Homo sapiens: one gene and its partners. The protein of the gene in region 2 interacts with the protein of the main gene of each other region in a pairwise test. Each region holds a gene or a part of one and is shown on either strand. Other genes may lie near its edges.

Region 1 (7,026 bases), on a different chromosome or scaffold from region 2:
TGTGCTTCAGTTTCCTCATCTGTACAGCAGGTATAACCACAGGGTAGTTATAAAGCCCTGCTTTTAGGGCAGGACTTGGCACACAGTAGGTACTCAATAAATGCTGGCTATGATGACGATGATGATGGTGATGGTGATGATGATGATGATGATGATGATGATAGGGAAATATCTTTTCTCCCCTTATGGAGACTGGGAGCTCCTTGCCATGAGGGTGCTTGTCTCCTGTTATCCTCCACGGTGCCTGGGTGAAACTGGGCTCAGCAAGGGAGGCTGGGATAGATAGCGGGGCACATTAACTAACCCTCCAGTCAGGGATCCTCTTGCAGCCTCTGCAAATCTCTGTACCCCCAATGAAATGACCTTCCCACCTACCCAGTCACATCTTCCCCAGTACAAGGTCCCCCTTGCAGGCAGGAGTGAGCTGAGGAGGGCTGAGTCTGGTGGGGTTCGTCACCCCACCAATGCCCTGATCACTTCTCCCAGTGAACCTCTAAAGAGTGAGGAAGTAGCTAAATGTCACTGCCAGGTATGGGCCACCTGCATACACATATCATACATACATGTATACACACAGCAGACACCCTGGGTAGCTTCCCTCCCCGCAAGAGTCTGTCCCCACCCAGCTCTTTTCCTGACTACTGAATTGGAAGGGGTCGCATTTCTCTTCAGACACTTACTTTCCCTTCCCCACACACTGGCCAGCACTGGCCTCACGCCCAGACCCAGGTGGTACCTCAGGCCATCATGAAACTTATCACTACTGACTGCTCCCCTCACCCCAGGAAAGGCAGGCGGACCACTCACTAGGAGGCCTAAAGACATTCTGGGTGGGGAGGGCTGTGTCTCAGAGGAAAGGAAGCAGCGCCTTGACCTCAGCCTCCTCGATACAGGGGACGGTGGGGGAGGGAGCTCACCACTGCTGACCCAGGGCAGGTACCAGGTCAGGGAGGGGGCTCACCACTGCTGACCCACGGCAGGTACCAGGTTAGGGAGGGGGCTCACCACTGCTGACCCACGGCAGGTACCAGGTTAGGGAGGGGGCTCACCACTGCTGGCCCAGGGCAGGTACCAGGTCAGGGAGGGGGCTCACCACTGCTGGCCCAGGGCAGGTATCAGGTCGGGGAGGGGGCTCACCACTGCTGGCCCAGGGCAGATACCAGGTCGGGGAGGGGGTTCACCACTGCTGGCCCAGGGCAGGTACCAGGTCGGGGAGGGGGCTCACCACTGCTGGCCCAGGGCAGGTACCAGGGGCAGCTGACATTCACGAACGAGCCTGGCTCCCCATCTGGCCAGCAGGCGTATTCATCGAAGGTCCGGTTGCAGAACAAGTCTGGGAGCAGAAAGAACAGTCTCTGAGTCCCTGCTTGTGACTGGCCATGGCCCTTTCCCTCCCTTCCCCAAGACCCCTCCCCTCCTCGGAGGCTGCATGCCACTAACCTCTGCTGAATGCTTACTGTATGCCAAGCACTTTCCCCACCCAGCAAGAGCCAAGCAGGGGCACTTGCCACTTATCAGTGGCAGGACCTTGAGCAAGTAACTTAATGTCTGTTTCCTGATCTGTAAAACAGGAGTATTTCCAGCCCCATAGGGTTTTGTGGGATCAAGACTATATGCTACATAGATAATGGAACATAGTACGTGCTCAATGAAAAATCCCTATGGGCCTATTCTTAAATTGCACTTCACAGATTAGAGGGAAATGTTAGCTTACCTTCCTTCTGATCTCACTTAAGATAACCTTCTTTAGGTCACGTGTTATAATTACAGTCAGGATTTCAACCTAGGCCCAGCGGGCTCCAATCCCGTGCTCTTTAAACCACCTTGTGAACTCCCTGAAACATTTATTCCTATAAATATGTTTGTGGAGCCCTCAGTCCATGCACAGGCTGGGAGGTGCTGAGGACAAAAATGGAAAGGCCGGGTGCCTGCTCTGAGAGGCTCTAGCTGGGGGGCTGGCCGGCGGTGCAGGGAAGGACACACAGATAAGACAGCTAAGACAGAAATAAGACAGCAACCCCAAAGCAGACTACAGCAAACGAGTAAGGGCCAAATGATGGCAGAAGTCCTGGGGAAGATTTTCTGGAGGAGGCAGTGCTTCCGCGGACTTTGAAGAAAAGGAAGATTTTGGTCGGCAGAAAGGAAGGTATCCAGGTGAAGGAGTAGCTTGGACAATGAGATGAAGGCAGAGGGCAGGGGTGGCATCCTATAGAGGCAAATGGCTCCCAGCCATGGACATTGAGTTCATCAAAGTCCTCCAGAAGTTGGTTGGGTGGGGAGCACTAAAGGTGGGGAGCCTACATGGACTCACCTGTGGCAGGAGGTGGATCCTCAGTCAGGGAGCGCTGGCACTGGCGTCGGTATTCTCGCCATTTCTGCACCGTCTCCCAGAGGGACACAGTGGCACCCTGGGGGGAGGGCATATATGGGAGGCCTGTGGGTTCAGCCAGCCCCTCTCCTGCCCCCTCACCCCCTAACACACTTGGTTTCTCAATCTCCATGAAACCTCAAAGCCCCAAATTCTGCCAGGCATCAGCCACCTCTGAAAGAGAGTGAGAATAAGTCACTGCCACCCAGGGGCCCCAGGTGGATGGTTTGACATCTTCATTCCTCCCAGGGTGCATAGCTTGATGTGTCACGAGCACCCAGCAAATGTCTGCTAAATTGATGCTTTTGGGGAGGTGGGTGGGTGAAGGAGGAAAGGAGCGTGTGTGTCTCATTTGTGATCTCTGATCTCACTTAGGAGAGAGACTTTCTGAGGGCCCAGGACTCTAAGCTCCTTCTGGCGCCTAGTCAGCCTGCCTGAGGGCTTCTTGCACTTTCAACCATTCTAGAAGAAGACACACAGGCCAGAGTGGGAGAGGAACTGAATCAAGGGTGCACAGCCCCCCCAGGAAGCAGAGTTAAGGCTAGAATCTGGAGTCCTTCAGATCAGTGACCATGGTAGAATATCGCAAGGTGTGCGGGGGCCGGGGAGAGTAGTGGCGTTCAGGGCTACAAAGAGCTGGGATGTCTGCCATTAGCATTCCTCCTCCAAAACGCACTCACTTACAGATGCACTCAACACAGCACCCCCCACCCCCTCCCCGTGCTCCCCTCTGACACAGCAACCAAATCTAATATTCAACCCAGCTTCTATCCACCCAAAGGAAGAGTCCTGAGGACATGAGGTGAAGGGGTCAGGGAGGTTCCAGAACACTGAAGTCACACGTGCAATGGGAGGGATCCCTCTCACCTGTGAGTAGGGAGAGCTGAGCCTCCACTTCCAGTGAGGTCACCGAAATGGCTTTTCAGCACACAGACCCAAACAGACCCATCCCACTGAGAATCCACCATTCCTTCTGAGTGTTTTTGTGCACTTCCTTCAGCTATGTCTTGGGGTTGTCGTTCTTTTTAGTTTTTTCCTGAACAGCCTTAAAAATTATAAATATTCGTCCTTCAGAGGCTGCAGATGCTGAAATGACCCAAGAGCCCCATGTATAAAATGTAGGACCCATACATAATTTAAAACAACATTTTGCTTTTTGAAATCACAAAAATGTCCACGTGTGCTGAAATTAAAATAGCTTCTTTTTAGAAGCTTGCCCCCTTGCCTTGTAGCGTGCTGGGCACATGCTGGATCCAGTCTCGGGTTCTAGCTGGCTTATCACACACCTCCCTGAGAGACTTGGGTTGCCTTGCTCACCCCTTGCTGCCTCGGAGGCCCCATGGAAGGGCCCAGCTCACTTTAAGCCCCAGCAGCATCCTTGGCATAAGTGTGCCAAGGCGGCAGGGGCTACCCTGAAGGACAGAGCTCTTCTGAGGGCAAAGGTCAACTGTATTTGCTTGGGGAAAAAAAGAACAAGAAATCAAACATAACAGCTGCAAAGGTGTTGTCCATGATATTAGCCACAGCTGAGGAGGTGGCACAGTTTTCATCAGAGCAAGTCCTGGTGGATCAACCCCCACCGCCCCGTTTCCCTTCTCACTTCTTCCCTCTTCTCCGGGTAAAGGGCTCTTCCATGCTGCCCCTAAATGCAGCAGCTGCTGGGGGTGGAGGGCAGAGAGACGGAGAAATCCCCCTTGGTTTCTGTTTCTAGAATGAAAGCAGACCACACACAAGGTCACTGCTGGGAACTGGGGCAGAAGGTGTGTCTGGGGCAGGCAGAGAGGTATGGAAGCCAGTTCTTCCCAGAGGCGGGGGGAGGGGTTAACGACAGCGCCATGAAGGCCAATCTGGCCTCCTGCACCCCAGGGCAGCGCTGTCACCTACTCTGAGCAGAGCTGTGGACATAAAACTATATTCAGACTGGGGCTCCCTGAGGACGGGGCTGTGTCTCCCCTCAGACTGGAGCTTCCTGAGGATGGGGCTGTGGCTCCCCCTTAGGTGAGGGATTCCTGACAGTAAGAGTATCTTGTCCCCTCCCTACACCAGATCAGGGCTTCTAAATACCTTCGAGCCTTCATCCCACCCCTGCAGGCACACACAGTGCAAACTACCCAGACTTCTGGCCTCTCCCACGCCTCGTATTTACAGAAACCATAACTGTGCCAGGTTCTGGGTGGTCGTGGGTGGAGGGGAATGCAGGGAGTATAAAGGTGACTGCAGGAGCCCTGCCTGAGAGAGTCTTCAGGCTACTCGGGGGTCAATGCTTTACAGGACAAGTGACATAACAGGGAAGGCAGTGGGTGAAAGTGTTCAGGGAGTGGTTGGGGCAGGGTTCAGTGCAGACTCAAGAGGCCTGAGGGATTGGGGACTGTGAGGTGGGGCTGGGGTGAAGGGGGTTGGAGGCAGACTGGGCTAGCAAGGAGGAGGGCGGGCACTTCAGCAGGAGGGCACAGCAGGGAAAAGGTACAAAGGTGGGGACATCAGTGCTCCGGAGAGCAGAGGAGAGCTGTGGACTGTTATCAGGAGGATTTTTTGGGGCAGGGAGAGAGTGGTGGTGGGCCCTGGGACAGATGGGAGGTTCTGGTCTGGGGAAAGACTGAGTAAATGAGGCTAGGGCCACCCAGTGCCATAGGGCCTGGGTGCCCAGGTAACATAGTGGAGGCTGAACAACCCTGGCCTTGGGCTCAGATCTGGGCCTGGACCTGGGTCACCCAGATATTAGGTTTGCAACCGAGTGCAAGAGTTGTATGTTTTAGGCTCAGCTTACACTTGTGCAAAAGGGAACAGCAGCCCCTCCCCCATGGGATGGCTGTGGGGACTGAGTTAATGCTTAGGATGGTGGGCACATGGAGAAGGCTCAGTCAATGGCAGCAATCCCCATGATTTCTACTGTTTAGTGGAAAGGGCAGAGTGGGAGGGAGTGACCAGGCTTCCTGGGGACTGGGGCCCCACCCCTTCCTCACTTCTAGGATCAACATATTCCCAGAAAGAGGAAATGAATATATGTTCATGTCCAATGACCAATCATTCTGCTTAATTTGTGAGATCTTCCAGCAGTAACCACAGCCAATGGCAAAGTGAAGCAGGGAGGAAGCTTTGGACCCCATGCCCTGTGAGGAGGGGCAAGGCCCTGCCCACCAGTGTCCCCCACTCCTCCATTTCATCCTCCCACAACATAAGTCCCTGCTGCAAGCCTGACAAGGTGGGGCTGTGGGTTCTGGGTAGCGGGAAGGATGCAATCCAGATGTCCCTGTCCCTCACAAGGCAGCAGAGCTGACCAGGAGAGCAAAGCAGCGGTCAGAGGGGGTCTAAAGGGCCATGGGAAGGGCAGGATGGCAGTTTCTAGAATCAAGACTTGACAGGCTTCATGGGATCTCTCTGAGGTGGATGAAGGCACGTGGAGACGACACCTGGGTTGGAGGTTACAAGAAGGAAGGGGCATCCCTCAGATTCAGGAGTTTTTGGAGGAAGCAGGAGACAGGAAAGAGGACACCAGGAGGGAGTGGTGTGGTCTACAGGAAGGAGCACTGGACAGCGATTTATAAGTTCTTGGTCTAAATCCCAGCTCTGTTAATGCAGGACTGTGGGACACGATTTATCTTTTAGGACCTCAGTTTCCTCATCAGTTGCCAGTTCTGCCGTCCATAAAATGGGCATATCATTCTTCTCAAACTGCACAGATCCAACAAGATAAAGCAGGTGAAAATCTTTGTGACTTCTCAAGCCCTGTACAAGCAGGCAGCGTTGGAAGGAAGGACAGCAGAGAAGGAAGCAGGTGGAGTGGAAGCCCCCGGGGTGGTGGGCTTTCCAACACCCCAGGAAGGGGCTCCCTCTCCAAACACTGGCTGCCAATCTGAAAGGCACTCCTATTTCTCAGTGCGAATAAGTGTATCAGATTCTTTCTTTCTCTGGGGACCATTTTGGTGACGGGAAGGAGGTGGCACAGAGGTGGGAGACATGCAGGAAGGCCTCTCAGAAGGAGGAAGGAGGGATTCCAACTCAAATTTCTGGAGTCCCCCAACTAAGTCCAGCCCTTCAGGTTCCCTGGCATCTCCTCCCAGGACCCCAACCTCCTTCCTCTGTGTCACCTCCCAGAAGTCAAATCACCCCTTCCATCAACAGACCCCTGTCTCTTTGACCGCCCCTTGTTTTTCTTTCTTTCTTTCTTTTTTTTCAAAAGCTCAGAGCTTACAATCCATTTTTTTTCCCTAAGGGCTTTAGATATCTGAACGAAAGGACAGGAAAAGGAATACTACACACATGTTCTTACAGTCACAAAAACCCCCACGTGGACACACGGTCACACGCATCATCACACACGCCCCCAAGCACATTCCCAATACTGAGACACTGACACAGACTCTCTCCCACCACACACAATCACTCACAGACTGCCAGGTACACAGTCGCATGCTGAGACACTGTCCCCAACACACACACACAGAGGAACACACAGACACTCTCACATGCACACTATCTCTCCTGCACATATAGACACACACTAGTTGACACCCATTCACACACCAAGATGCCCCCCCCCCCACACACACACACAGACCCTCCCACAGACACAGTATCATATGCAGGGTCACAAAAACATAGACACTGTCAGATGTACAGTTGCATGCTGAGATGTTGCACACACAGGGACTCATTCC
Region 2 (7,390 bases):
AAGGCTTGGGGCTGTCACAGGAGTGAACTCTCCTATGAGAGAGGTCGTTTACAAGCCTGGCACCTCCCTCCCCTCTCTCACTTCCTCTAGTGCATGTGATCTCTACACAGCTGGCTCCCATTCACAAGGCCCTCAGCAGTGCAGATGCTGGCGCCCTGCTTCTTGTACAGCCTGCAGAACCCTAAACCAAAGAAACATCTTTCCATTATAGATGACTGAGCCTCAGGTATTCCTACATAGGAACACAAACAGGGAGACAACCTGCCAGTACTTCCTGCCCATTCTACTTCCATAGCTGAACTCCATCCATCCACTTCACCCACCTCCACTGCCTCCACTCTAGTTAGGAGAGACTCCCACCTCATGTCCCTAATGTCACCACTTCCTACACAACCCATTCTCTACAAGCATCCGCACACTTCTGTGAAGGGGCAGGCAGTTCACATTTTGAGTTCTATGAGACATCTCGTCTCCATCACAGTTACTCAATTCTGCCACTGCTTAGTGAAAGCAGCCCCAGTGTAGTGGCTGTGTTGCAGAAACAGGTGGGGCTATGTTCCAATAACGCTTTATTTATGGAGATTGAAATTTGATTTTCATAAAATTTTCACTGGTCACAAATGATCCCGTTTCCGACCACTTAAAAATGTAAGAACTAGCTGGGCGCCGTGGCTCATGCCTGTAACCCCAGCACTTTGGGAGGCCGAGGCAGGCAGATCACAAGGTCAAGAGATCAAGACCATCCTGGCCAACACGGTGAAACCCCGTCTCTACTAGAAATACAAAAGTTAGCTGGGCACAGTGGCGTGCACGTGTAGTCTCAACTACTCAGGAGGCCGAGGCAGGAGAATCGCTTGAACTCAGGAGGTGAAGGTTGCAGTGAGCTGAGATCGCGCCACTGCACTCCAACCTGGCAACAGAGCGAGACTCCGCCTCAAAAAAAAAAAAAAAAAAGAAAGAAAGAAAATATTAAGAACCATTCTTAGCTTGTGAATCCTCAGAAAATAAGAAGCAGACCTGACCTGCTACCCCAGCTGTAGTGCCTGCTCTGCACAAATCACTCCCTGCTGGAACCCAGTAAAGCTCTCGACTGTATCCCCAACGCTTTAACACTCCTCACATGATCCGGCCCCAGCCTTCCACCTCACTTCCCACTTTTTTTTATATTTTCTGAAACGATCTGACTTTGCTATTGCTCTTAAAGGCGGCCTATTCTGCATATAATACTTGGTGGCCACGTCCTTGCCCCTCCTGAAGAGCTGCAGTGGTTCCTCCCTCACTTCTTGGCAGTTACAGTTGCAGGGGAGCAGCTTGATGCTAACTTGATTCAAACTCATTTTCATCTGAGCTTTCCGACCCAACCTAGCCCGTAACTCCTTTAAAGCCACGAAGACGCAATATGAGTGTTTTCCCACTTCTTTGTAAAGGAAGCTAAGGCAACAACGGGGGCTTCCCCTTCCCTCAGCTTCCTGGCCCAGGGCCCTGCACCTGCGAATCCCCATGTCTGGAAAGCTCCTCAAACAACTGCTCTTTCCTAGCCTTCTGGTCTGAACTTACAGGGCCTGAACATAGAAGGGTCCCGTTCATTTATTTTTTATTTATTTATTTATTTTTATTTGGAGACAGAGTCTCGCTCTGTCGCTCAGGCTGGAGGAGTGGAGTGGCGCGATCTCGGCTCATCGCACCTCTGCCTCCCGGGTGCAAGCGATTCTCCTGCCTCAGCCTCCCGACTAGCTGAGAGAACAGGTGCCCGCCACCACGCTCGGCTAATTTTTGTATTTTTAGCCAGGCTGGTCAGGCTGGTCTCGAACTCCTGACCTTAGGTGATCCACCCACCTCGGCCTCCCAAAGTGTTGGGATTACAGGCGTGAGCCACTGCGCTCAGCGTATTTTTTAAATTTTATTTATTTATTTTTTTGAGGTGGGGTCTCACTCTGTTACCCAAGCTAGAGTGCACTGGTGTGACCCTAGCTCACTGCAGCCTCCGAAACTCGTAGGCTCAAGGAATCCTCCTTTCTCTGCTAGGACTACAGGTGTGCGCCTCCACGGAGGGCAAATTTTTAAATTTTGGTAGAGATGAGGTCTCACTGTGTTGCCCAACCTGGTCTCAAAGTCCTGGGCTCAAGAGATCCTCCCGCCTCGGCCTCCCAAAGTGCTGGAATTACAGGCGTGAGCCACCGCGCCCGGCCTCTCTTTTCTTTAAAGCCACTGTGGCCATCACTGTGTGTGTAGACCTCACCCCGCCCCAGGCAAACCCCTTCCAGCACCCATCACACCGGTACCTCCAGTCTTGGCCCACCTGCTGGCGGGATTCCTCGGCACTAGACAGAAGCCCCCCGGGGCAAGGGGCTCCCTCCGCGGTCAGAGGCAGGGACTGGGGCAGGGGAAGAGGCTGGGGCTGGGCAGGGGCTGGACAGGGACAGGGACAGCGCGCGGGGGCGCGGCTCACCTGGTCGGCGCCGAAGGGCGTGATGTTGGCCTTGACGGTGGCCACGCCCAGGCCCACCAGCACCAGCCCCGCGAAGGTGGCCGGTGAGCAGCAGCGGGCGGCGGCGTCGGGACCAGGCGCCGTGCAGTTGAGCAGGCGCGCGGAACCGCAGAGCGCGGCTCGCGTGGCGGGCGCGGCCAGCAGCGGGAAGGCCAGCATGCCCAGCAGGTAGAGCGCCAGGCTCAGCAGGATGGCGCGCGCCCGGCCCAGCCGCGCGTCGGCCAGCCAGCCTCCGAACGGCGAGCCCAGGTAGGTGAGGCCCATGAAGAGCAGCAGCGCCTCGCTGGCCTGCGCGCCCTCCCAGCAGAACGGCGCCCCGTTCAGGAATAGCACCAGGTTGGACGTGATGCCGTAGAAAGCGGCGCGCTCCAGCAGCTCCGTCAGCAGCACGGCCCCGCACGCCGCGCGCCGGCCCGCGAACGCCCCAGCCGCCGCCGCGGCCGCCGCCGCCCGCCGCGCGCCCAGCAGCGGCGCCCGCTCGCCCGCACCGCCCCCAGAGCCCTCCATGCGACGCCGCCAGCTGCCTCGCCCCGCCGCCGGGTCACCTGTCCCAGAACCCAGGGCCGCCGCCCTTCTCGCGAGACTGCCGGGCCTGAGATGTCCCTATTGGGCGGGCTCGCCGCTGCTCAACGCCCCACTCGCCGGAACTTCCGGCCCCGCCCCGGGCACTAGGCGAGGAGGTGGCCGGTATTCTGGATCACTGCGTGTCTTGGGGAGCTTGGGATTCCGCAGCTTGGCGGCCGAGAGCCTTTGTTTGCCTTTTTGAGACAGGGTTTCCCTCTCTCGCCCAGGCTGGAGCGCAGTCATGCGGTTACGCCTCACTGCAGCCTCAGCTTCCCAGGATCAAGCGGCCCTCCCACCTCAGCCTCCCGGGTAGCTGGGACCGCAGGCGCTCGCCGCTGCCTGTGGCTAATTTTTAAACAGTTTTTTGAAATGGGGTCTCGCTTTGTTGCTCAGGTTGGTCTCGAACTCCTGGCATCAAGCGTTCCTCACGTCTCAGCCTCCCATAGTGTTGGAATTACGTGCATGAGCCACTGCAGGCAGTCGGACTAAGGGAGTTTAAACAAAGAAGCCGGAGCCTGGCCCTCTTCGGGCTTCGGTGGGGCCCAGTAGGCAGCCAAAACTCACACTGAGACGGCGGCTGCTCTCCAGGCGGGTTTGCTCAGGCTGCCCCCGTGCTCCCTGCCCTGGGCTTCAGTCCTGGAGAGGACCCGGTTTCTCAACCCGTGCATCGTTGGCACTTTGAGCGACGGGACTGTCCTGTGCGTTGCACGATGTTCAGCAGCAGCTTTGGCCTCTGCTATCCACTAGGGGCCAGTTCCACCCCCTAGCACCTCAGGTTAACAACCGAAAATGTCTTCTAGACTTTGCCGAAGGACTCCTGGGGGCAAATACGCCCCCATTGAGACTCACTGGCTTAGAACAAGGCAAGCTCCAGCCTGTTTCAGGCTTTCCCAGAGACTGCCCCTACACCATCTATGGTTGCATGGCTGGCTTCTCATCCTTCAACCTTCCACCGAAGTGTTGACTTCAGAGAAACATTTTTTTCACTAGCCTGTCCAAGGCCCGAGTATCCCATTCCATCATGTTACTCTTTTCTCCTTATTACCTGTTACATTTTTTAATTTATTCGTTTATCTCCCCAACCTGCATGTGTTAACAGGTGTAAGCTTCCTGATGGCAGGATTCTCTTGTGTTTTGTTCCTCACTGTGCCCCCTGCCTCTGGGACAGCGCCTGGCACATAGTGGAGTGAAAGAGTGCCGCCCAAAAATGGCCCTCAGCATGGCTTCAGAAATTGAGACCCCGGCCTGGGATGGTGGCTCACGTCTACAATCCCAGCACTTTGGGAGGCCGAGGCGGACGGATCACGAGGTCAAGAGATCGATACCATCCTGGCCAACATGGTGAAACCCCGTCTCTACTAAAAATACAAAAATTAGCTGGGCGTGGTGGCAGGCGCCTGTAGTCCCAGCTACTCAGGAGGCTGAGGCAGGAGAATCGCTTGAACCAGGGAGGCAGAGGTTGCAGTGAGCCGAGATTGTGCCACTGCATTCCGGCCTGGTGACAGAGTGAGACTTCGTCTCAAAAAAAAAAAAAAAGACAAAAAAAAAAGAAATTGAGACCCCGGCCTGGGATGATGGCTCACGCCTATAATCTCAGCACTTTGGGAGGCTGAGGCAAGAGGATTGCTTGAGCCCGGGAGGTAGAGGCTGCATTCAGCAGTGAGGGCATCACTGCACTCCAGCCTGGGTGACATAGTGAGACCCTGTCTCAAAAAAAAAAAAAAAAAAAGGCAAGAAAGAAAGGAATCGTGATCCACAGCTGCTGCAATGATTCAATTAGTGTAAGACCACCTCCTCTTCCTTCATCATTCCCTCCAGCTAAGATGAGGGTGGAGCCAGTAGCTGGGAAGTTGGCTTGCCAGTAGGTCATCTGGAGAAGTAATCCTGCCAGTAAGTCTTGAAGTTGCATGCATTCTCTTTTTAAAAAACTTTTTTAAATGTCCGACAGATAGACTGATGGTCAGCACAGTGCTGCCACACAGCAGGCAATATATATTTAATCAATGTCTAAGGAGAGAATAATTGAATGCCCGAATTGGACCTTTGCCACCTGTCTGTTGATGCTTGTCATTTCCAGCTGTCAGCTCAAATATCACTTTCCTAACCCTGCCACACTAGGTTAGCTCCCCGTTTTTATGGCCTTGGAACTCCCTATACTTTTTTCCCACAGCACCGGTTATAATTTATACTTATTTTGTGCAACTATTGAATGCCTGTCTTCAAAGCTGGGATGGCCGGGATCTTTGTTTTAACCACGATTGTAGTTCTAGAGGCTGGCACAGCACTTGCCAATGATAAATAGGTATTAGATTGAACTGGATGAGTGAATGACTGACCATTTGTTGAATGTAAATGATGCAAGTCACCTTATGTTCTCATATATGTGTGTGTATACACATATGTATATCTGTGTGTATATATGTATATATGTGTGTATATAAGTGTGTGTATATGTGTGCATGTATACATGTGTATATATATGTGTCTATACATGTTCAAGGGCATATATTAGTATTTTAACTTATTATTGGATACTAATATATGTCCTTGAACATGTACATATAGACACACACACACACATATGTGCCATTTTTTTTTTTTCTTTTTGAGATGGAGTTTCGCTCTTGTAACCCAGGCTGGAGTGCAGTGGCACAGTGGCTCATGCCTGTAATCTCAGCACTTTGGGAGGCCAAGGCAGGCAGATCACTTGAAGTCAGGAGTTAAAGACCAGCCGGGCCAACATGGTGAAACCCCATCTCTACTAAAATTACAAAAATTAGCCAGGCGGTAGTGTTGCGCACCTGTAATCCCAGCTACTCAAGAGGCTCAGGCAGGAGAATCGCTTGAGCCTGGGAGGTGGAGTTGCAGTGAGCCGAGATCACGCCACTGCACTCCAGCCTGGGTGATAGAGCGAAACTGTCTCAAAATAAAAAATAAAAAAGAAAGCAATAGAACTCAGACTTCAATGAAAGGCTTATATCTAATTATGAGTCCAGTGCTGCTTCCACTTTGCAGTTGGTAGAGGAGACAGAATCTTTGAGTATTTTTTCTAAGACTGATAGGTTTGACGCTCAGGCAAAGTCTAGAGTAAAATTAACATTAAACATGGAATGAAAGCAAAGCAAATGATTTGAATCATGTGATAACCCAGTGTCCAAACAGTGCTCAATACACTCTGCCATTTTTGAATGATAGTAAACTAATCCGATTGCATTGCCTCATTTGAGAAAACTAAAGCTAAGTTTAAAAAAACAAAAAAGTGAGCCAAGACCACATCTGGCAAGATCACATTTATATGCAATGGCCAGAATAGGCAATAGGCAAATCCATACAGACAATGCAGATTAGTACAGTTTCCTGATACTGGGGGAGGGGAGGGGAAGATTGGTGCACATCTCTGTGAATGTACTAAAAAACCACTGAATTCTACAGTTTATATAAGTGAATTATATGGTATGCGAATATGTCTCCATAAAGCTGGTACCAAAAGAAAGTGAACTAATAGTTACAGTTTGAAAGGTTTCACATATAAATTTGGATGCCTTGCTATTTGGGGAAAATAAATGTGAGCTCTGGCAATGCTGGACTTGTGATTACCTGTTACATTAGTATGATCCCATCACTTTGAACCATGCCCCATAGTATTCAAGCCTTTATGTATTCCTCAGAGATCACACCACAGGGCCTGTCCTGTGACCTGTTTTGACCAAGAGAATACATCAAAAGTGTCTCTGGGCCTGGTCTGGGCACAGGCTTAAAGTCTGACACCTTCCACTTTCATGACTGGGGTGTCCGGAGCCATCATATTAGACGTCCACCTGCCTTCCATCATATGTTGAGGAGGAGTCTGCAACTATGTGGAGAGGGGATTCTCAGCATTCCAGATGACCTGCCTACTGAATGCAGCCATGTGAAGACCAGCAGAAGAACCACACAGCTGAGCCTCAACCCAGATAGCAGAATTGTAAACAAATAACATGGTTGTTCTTTTAAGCCACTAAATTCTGGGGCAGTTTATTATGTAGCAACAGGTAATGGAAACACATTTGCTTCCCCCTGTAGCCACAATCTGCTGACACTCAGCAGCAGCCACTGTCTTTAGATGGCAGACACTTTCTAGCTTTCCTAAACCCTCCCCACTCACTATTGTCTTATTTTTGTTATCATAGAGAAAATTCTCCATATCTGCATAGTCCAGCGCAGGAGCCACTAGCTATGTGTGGCTATTGAAACTAGTTAAAATTAAATAAAATGAAAAATTCTGTTCCTCAGTTACACTAGCCATATTGCAAGTGGTTTGTGGCTAGTGGCTACCGTATTGGACAGCATAGTCTATTT
Region 3 (7,041 bases), on a different chromosome or scaffold from region 2:
TTTGAAATAGTACATCTAAAGACACATCTTATTTTAGTAAATCATTTCTCTTGAGGGGCACTGAGATTAGTCTTGCTTTTCCACTATGTGTAATTATTGCATATGCCTCCGTGAGTATTTCCACAGGCCAGATTTGGAGGAGCAGAATTACCAGATCAAAGCTATTGCCAAATTTCCTTTCAAGTAGCTTGGATCAATTTATTCTCTCACCAGCAATGTTTGAGATTGTTTTCATTGACATTCCTTAGCACATTATTTTTTTTTAATTTTCCAATCAAATGAGCTAATTTATGTTTGTCTCAAATTAGAGAGTCTTGTTAAAATCATATGTAGGTCATGTGTTATTTTTTAATGCCTGCAAAACTCAAAATCCTGTATTTCATCTCTTTACCTCTATATTATATTACCCTATAATATAAATTCTAAATCCCATAATTCCATTGTAAACTTTTTAAGACTTTCTTGGTGTGGGGGACTTGCAGGTAAATTGCTGAAAAGTGATCACTGAAAAACTTGAATATTGTTTTGTTCATGATTTAATTATGATAATGTAACCAAATCTGTATTACATGTTCCAGTTTTTTTTCAGTGAATGATGCTAGACCTTTACCTAAACAAAAAGCTTCTTTAGGAAGGACCTCCCTGTATAAAATAGCATCTGCAGTTTCCTTACTCTTATCTTTAAAAATACCTGTTCCTTAGAGCTGGAAATAATCACTTAATCACATACCTTAGATTATATCCCTATTATTTCAGCTTGTATTGAATTTATTGATGAATGCTCTAAAATATTGCTCATTAATATTTCAATTTCTGTTACAAATCATATAATTTGGGATTATCTATTCTTGTATCAAATATGAAGTGATTCTTAACAAATTAATTTCTGAAAGTATAACTTTATGGCTAAGATAATACAATCATAAATCAAAAGCCCTCTCTTCTTCATATTAATATTACCAAGTAAATAAATAATTTTTTGTTTGGTTCTGCTTAGATTCTTATGACCAAAGTTAATGGCTACTTCCAAGGACGATCTGATGTGTGAATTTTCTTAGTTCAGAAAATGTAAACTTTGGTGCAGAAATATTAGTAAATATATTTTATCATAGTTTGGATTTTTCTTTATACTCCTTCTTGATATAAATTGAAAAATTAAACCTTTTGGATCATTTTTTGAATCACTTTCAATGTATTTTGATGCAAAATGAGAGGACTAAAAAAATAAGAAACCTATCATAATAGTATTGTACTGATATAAATTTCTTTGGTGTTATAATTGTTAATCATTGTTAATCATGTTAATTATGCCAATTTCATTAACATTTACTTAATTGTAGGCATGTCAACTACAAATGCAATGCAAGATTCTTGATTGGATCCTGGATTTAAAACATAAAAAGATTCTAAAGGACATGTGGATAATTAGGAAAATTTGAATGTGTATCACATCTTAGATAATAGTATTGTGTTGATGTTATGTTTCCGTGGTGTTGTAATGTGTTATAGAAGACTGCCTTTATTTTTAGGAGATACATGCTCAAGAATTTAGGGGTGACATGTGTCCTAAAGTCAGCAACATACTTTCAAACCATTCAGGGAAAAAACTGTGCATATGTGCATGCGTGTGTGTGAATATATATATACACATATAGAGAGAGAGAAAAGGACAGGCAGAGACAGAGAAAGACAAAGCGAGAGAGAAAGTAAATGTGGCAAAAAGATACCACTGATTAATACACATGATGAAAATATGGGTGTTCGTTGTACTATTCTTTCAATTTTTATATAGATTTGAAACATTTCTAAATAAAAATTGGGAGGGGGAAAAAACCATATTTAGTTAATGAAGGCATATTTACATTGTATAATGTTTATTAAGAGCCTAGAGGGACAATATCTTATATATCTAAAATAATCACTACATATGAGATGAGAAATGTCTCAGTGACTTGATATAAATACTTCAAACATCATTTTGCTCTGAGATAATAGAATTAGTGTACTACCTTTGAATATCTCCAAAATTCCACTTATGATATGGATGTTTGACACAGACTTCAAATACTCTTCAATCCTCCAGAAGCTTCTCAAGCTCAGAAACAATCTTCTTCTCACACTGACCTATGCAAGAAATGTTATAAAATATCAATATAAATATTCTGTCCAAACCAGGTCTATATTTAAGCACAGATTCATATGCGCAAGACAAAGAATGTTTGAGCGAGTCTAAAGATAATTCAAACAAAACTCCACTCGTACATGCGCTATCTTTAATACCAAAAGGGAAGCTTTCCCCAAATCACCCAGATGAAAGTCGAAAAGCATCCTCACTATAGATCGCATTCATTTTGAATACATCCTGCCACACAGAAAAACACTATCACAAGCTTGCTGAACTGAATAATTGAGAGTCAAATCCAATTGGAAAGGACTGTGATTGTTTTCGTCTCTAAAACTGCATCACCGTAACTGAATTCAAGAGCTGTGTTGTCCCTGCAAAACCCTGCTTAGGTTTTTAGGCCTTCTTTTAAAAATGCAGAAGCTAAACCAGTGTGGCAATTAGTGAAAGAGGACTGCAAAAATAACACAATAAATATTTGCTCAGATCAGTCAAAAATTGTAGGTAAAAATATAAGTGTTTTAGAAATGCTTAGAATGTGGACACGAGGAGGTAAGGAAAGGAAGTATTGGGCTTAATTTCTCTTTATTTTTCAACTCCACTGAATGCTTGTTTAAACTCCCACTTGTCTCTGATATGGTAAGCTAGAAAAGCATTTTAGATGTCATAAGAATGGATCAGCGCTCTCGTGATAAAGGGCTAAGAAAGCGTGAGAAGACAGATGACAAAAAATAATAGCGGAGTTCTAGGGTCCTTTGCTTTCTTTTTCTTACCTTCACTAACCAATCTGCTCATCTGATCCGGCAGAAACACAGCAACTGACCAAACAGAGAGATGAACAAGCCAGCCAATGCTCTTTCCAGAAATTTTCACAAGCCTTTCACTGATGAGACCAGTAGACTGAGCTGCTCAGTGCAAAGCCATTCTTTTTATAATTGGTCCCATGGAAAAAGAGTTGTTTTTGTTCAAGTCCGATTTGTGCTAAAGAGGCAGTGGGAAGTCCCGGGAGGTGGGGAGGCAGTAACTGACAAAGCCACATCAAGCCACAGAATGGTGTTTCTTCCCCTTTTTCGAAAAATGAAACCTATCTACGAAACTGTCTCTTATTAAAATAGTTTATGGTTACACATTTTGTAAGAACCCTAGCAACAGAATTAAATTTCCTTTCTAGAAAAGTACATTATCTGGGATCCTTCACCCAAAAGAAAGCCAAAGTCACATATGACTTTAGGAAATTCTGTTTCGTTACTAATCTATAATTTTTAAGAAGTATTATTTCTCAATGGTACTTATAATTTTTAAAAATGTAAATGAAAAAAATTTTCTCGGCCGGGCGCAGTGGCTCACGCCTGTAATCCCAGCACTTTGGGAGGCCGAGGCAGGTGGATCAGGAGGTCAGGAAATCGAGACCATCCTGGCAAACACGGCGAAACCTCGTCTCTCCTAAAAATACAAAAAATTAGCCGGGCGCGGTGGCGGGCGCCTGTGGTCCCAGCTACTCGGGAGGCTGAGGCAGGAGAATGGCGTGAACCCGGGAAGTGGAGCTTGCAGTGAGCCGAGATCGCGCCACTGCACTCCAGCCTGGGCGACAGGGCGAGACTCCGTCTCAAAAGAAAAAAAAAAGAAAAAAGTTTTCCCTCTCCAAATACCGAAGGTCAAAACAATAATACATGGTGTGGGCAAAGTTGTGAAGAAACAAGCACTCTCAAACACTACTGATGAGATTGTAAACATATTTAGAGGGCAATTTCCCAGTATCTCTCAAATACAAATATTCATACCCTTTGACCCAACAATTGTATTTTTTATAAATTTGTCCAAGCTATATGTTTACACTTGTACACAAAGACTTATGTGAAAAGATATTTGTTGCAGCATTGCTTGAGAAAATAAATGACTAGAAAAAATTATATCCATAAATAAGATATTGGCCAAGTAAATGAGAACGTATGCATACTTAAAATCCTATGTAGGTTGTGTGCGGTGGCTCACGCCTGTAATCCTAGCACTTTGGGAGGCCGAGGCAGGTGGATCACTTGAGGTCAGAAGTTTGAGACCAGCCTGGCCAACATGGTGAAACCTTGTCTCTACTAAAAATACAAAACTTAGCCACGCGTGGTGGTGGGCACCTGTAATCCCAGCTACTCGGAGGCTGAGGCATGAGAATCCCTTGAACCCGAGAGGTGGAGGTCACAGTGAGCTGAGATTGTGCCACTGCACTCCAGCCAGGGTGACAGAGCGAGACTCCATCTCAAAAAAAAAAAAAAAGAAAAAAAAAGATCTCTAACATATATTGTTTAGCAAGAACTCATTTTCCAGTTTGTATTTTTAAGGAATATATGTATATACATGCTTATGTAATAGAATATTTCTTTTTAAAATTTTGTATTTTAATTTTTGTAGGTATACAGTAGGTGTATATATTTATGGGGTACATAAGATGTTTCGATACATGCATATGATGCATAATAATTACATCATGAAAAATGGGGTATCCATCCCCTCAAACATTTATCTTTTGTGTTACAAAAAATCTAATTATACTATTTTAGTTATACTAAAATGTAAAATTAAGTTATTATTCACTACAGTATCCCTGTTGTGCTATTAAATACTTTGTCTTATTCATTCTTTCTAACTAGTTTTTGCACCCATTAACCATCCCTACCTGCCCCACCAGCCCTCCACTACCCTTCCCAGCCTCTGGTAACCATGCTTCTACTCTCTATGTGCATGAGTTCAATTGTTTTGATTTTTAGATATCACAAATAAGTGAGAACATGTGATGTTTGACTTTCTGTTTCTGGCTTATTTCACTTAACATAATGACCTCTGGTTCCATCCATGTCGTTGCAAATGACAGGATCTTATTCTTTTTTGTGGCCGAATAGTACTCTATTGTGTATATGTATCACATTTTCTTTATCCATTTATCTGTTGATGGACACTGAAGTTGCTTCCAAATCTTAGCTATGGTGAACAGTGCTGCCACAAACATAGGAGTGCAGATATCTCTTCAATGTACTGATGTCCTTTCTTTTGGGTAGATACCCAGCAGTCCGATTGCTGGATCTTATGGTGGCTCAATTTTTAGTTTTTTGAGGAACCTCCAAAGTGTTCTCCATAGTGGTTGTACTAATTTACATTCCCACCAACAGTGTATGAGAGTTCCCTTTTCTCCCTATCCTCACCAGCATTTGTTATAGCCTTTCTAGAATATTTCTTTTTTTATGCTACACACAAGAAATCAGAAATAAGCAATTGTGTTTCAGGAACAAGACTCATTTTTCATTCTATACCCTTTTGAAATTTCTGTGTGTATGTATTACTTTTTCATTTTAAAAACTAGTATTCTTAAGTCATATTTAACTTTGATTGTACGGCCCAAATGTATTATAATCTATGTCTTTTCTGGAGGACAGACAAGTCTATCTGCAAATGGGTCAGTTCTTCTTGCCCAAAAGCAGAAAAATTAAGGGTTTCAAAATCATTTATCTGGTTTACCCTGACTGCTTCAAGTTAACCAACAAAGAATAAGCCTGCCCAAATCATAACTACTTCACTGTCTTTTTCTACCTAACTCCAATCAAAACTAAGTTCTATGGATACAAAAAACAAAACAAAACAAAACAAAGCAAAACAAAAAACAAAGCTAAGTTCCAAACTCTTAAGAGGTGAACATTTCCACTTAATGGGTTTGATTTTGTTTACTTTTGTTCAACGACTTATCTTAAAATGTCATATATTTTAAAGTATACTAGCATTTTTATTTTTGTTAGTCATGATTTTCTGCATTATTTTTTCATGAAACATTACTTAAATCCACTTTAGAAGGCATGCTCTCATGTATGAGCCATGATAAGGACAGTTTCTCAACTAGTCCTGAATCTGACTTGACCTACCATCACAGGAAACACCAGACTCATTGCCCCAGGGGCAAATTCAGTTACAGTGTAATCTTACAAAATCAGGTTCAGTGATGTCTTCAGGCATTTTTAGCTCATCAAGGATTTAGCTGTGATCAAGAGACCATAGCACCTGTAGGGCCAAACATTGATTTATTTCACTTTAGTGTTGCTTCATCCACAGTCATGAGACACCGTAGAGTAGGTCTTACCTACCTCCAGAAACACTTTATGGTGGGTTACCAAGAACTCGCCTGGAAGTACAATGAAATAACCATTGTGGGGTGATTCCATCTTCTCCACGTTGTCTTAAGTCACACTTACTGTTTTATTCAAATACAATATGCAGAATTTTGATTATGCCCACTCTTGATTTTGTCTCTAAAGTTACCCCTTTGATGGAAAAACCTCCTTTGCAGAAAAAAGATTCTGTAAGGAAAAAATGGGCACTATGCCAAGCTAACCTACTATTTCTACTATTTCTCATTTGATAAAACCTGAGCATACAAAATCAGCTTTAAACAGCTTTTTCTTTACTGGTTAAAATAAAATAGAATTATATCCCTTGTAGCTGAAATCTTATAATATGATTTTCTATTAATCTGCTGAATAGTAGGTAAAAGTTATTGCCTCGATATCTGTGCCTCTAAATGGACATTATTCCTATTATTCAATTACTTTTCCTGCTGTACAAAACACCCTCCAAGTTATTTCCATTATGATAGCATCCCTCCTAGCTCACTCTCAATCCTCACCAGGTTTCCTCCACCCTGGCTACCCTCTATTCACCTCATAGTGCTCCTAGTAGCACTCTAAATTCCACAACAATATGTCTTTCTGTCACATCCTACTTGCCAATTTCCAGTCCCATATAAAACCATTATTGCCTGGCCGGGCACGATGGCTCACACATGTAATCCCAGCACTTTGGGAGGCCAAGATGGGCTGATCACCTGAGGTCAGGAGTTCAAGACCAGCCTGGCCAACATAGTGAAACCCTGTCTCTACTAAAAA

Evidence for each region.
Region 1: the proteins of SLC15A4 (region 2) and GLP1R interact in a protein complementation assay, tested with the Homo sapiens proteins (2 studies listed by BioGRID).
Region 3: the proteins of SLC15A4 (region 2) and TASL interact in binary tests that used the Homo sapiens proteins (3 or more experiments, as listed by UniProt).

Annotation. Positions count from the first base shown.
Region 1 is NC_000006.12:39,051,779-39,058,804, reverse strand, and holds part of GLP1R (glucagon-like peptide 1 receptor precursor), read right to left. Parts: intron 2,409-7,026; coding exon 2,312-2,408; intron 1,334-2,311; coding exon 1,226-1,333; intron 1-1,225.
Region 2 is NC_000012.12:128,820,949-128,828,338, forward strand, and holds the start of SLC15A4 (solute carrier family 15 member 4), read right to left. Parts: upstream 3,011-7,390; 5' UTR 2,996-3,010; coding exon 2,450-2,995; coding exon of another isoform or gene 2,300-2,449; intron 1-2,299. UniProt on the Homo sapiens protein: Proton-coupled amino-acid transporter that mediates the transmembrane transport of L-histidine and some di- and tripeptides from inside the lysosome to the cytosol, and plays a key role in innate immune response.
Region 3 is NC_000023.11:30,574,743-30,581,783, forward strand, and holds the start of TASL (TLR adapter interacting with SLC15A4 on the lysosome), read right to left. Parts: upstream 3,025-7,041; 5' UTR 2,896-3,024; intron 2,125-2,895; 5' UTR 2,010-2,124; intron 1-2,009. UniProt on the Homo sapiens protein: Innate immune adapter that mediates the recruitment and activation of IRF5 downstream of endolysosomal toll-like receptors TLR7, TLR8 and TLR9.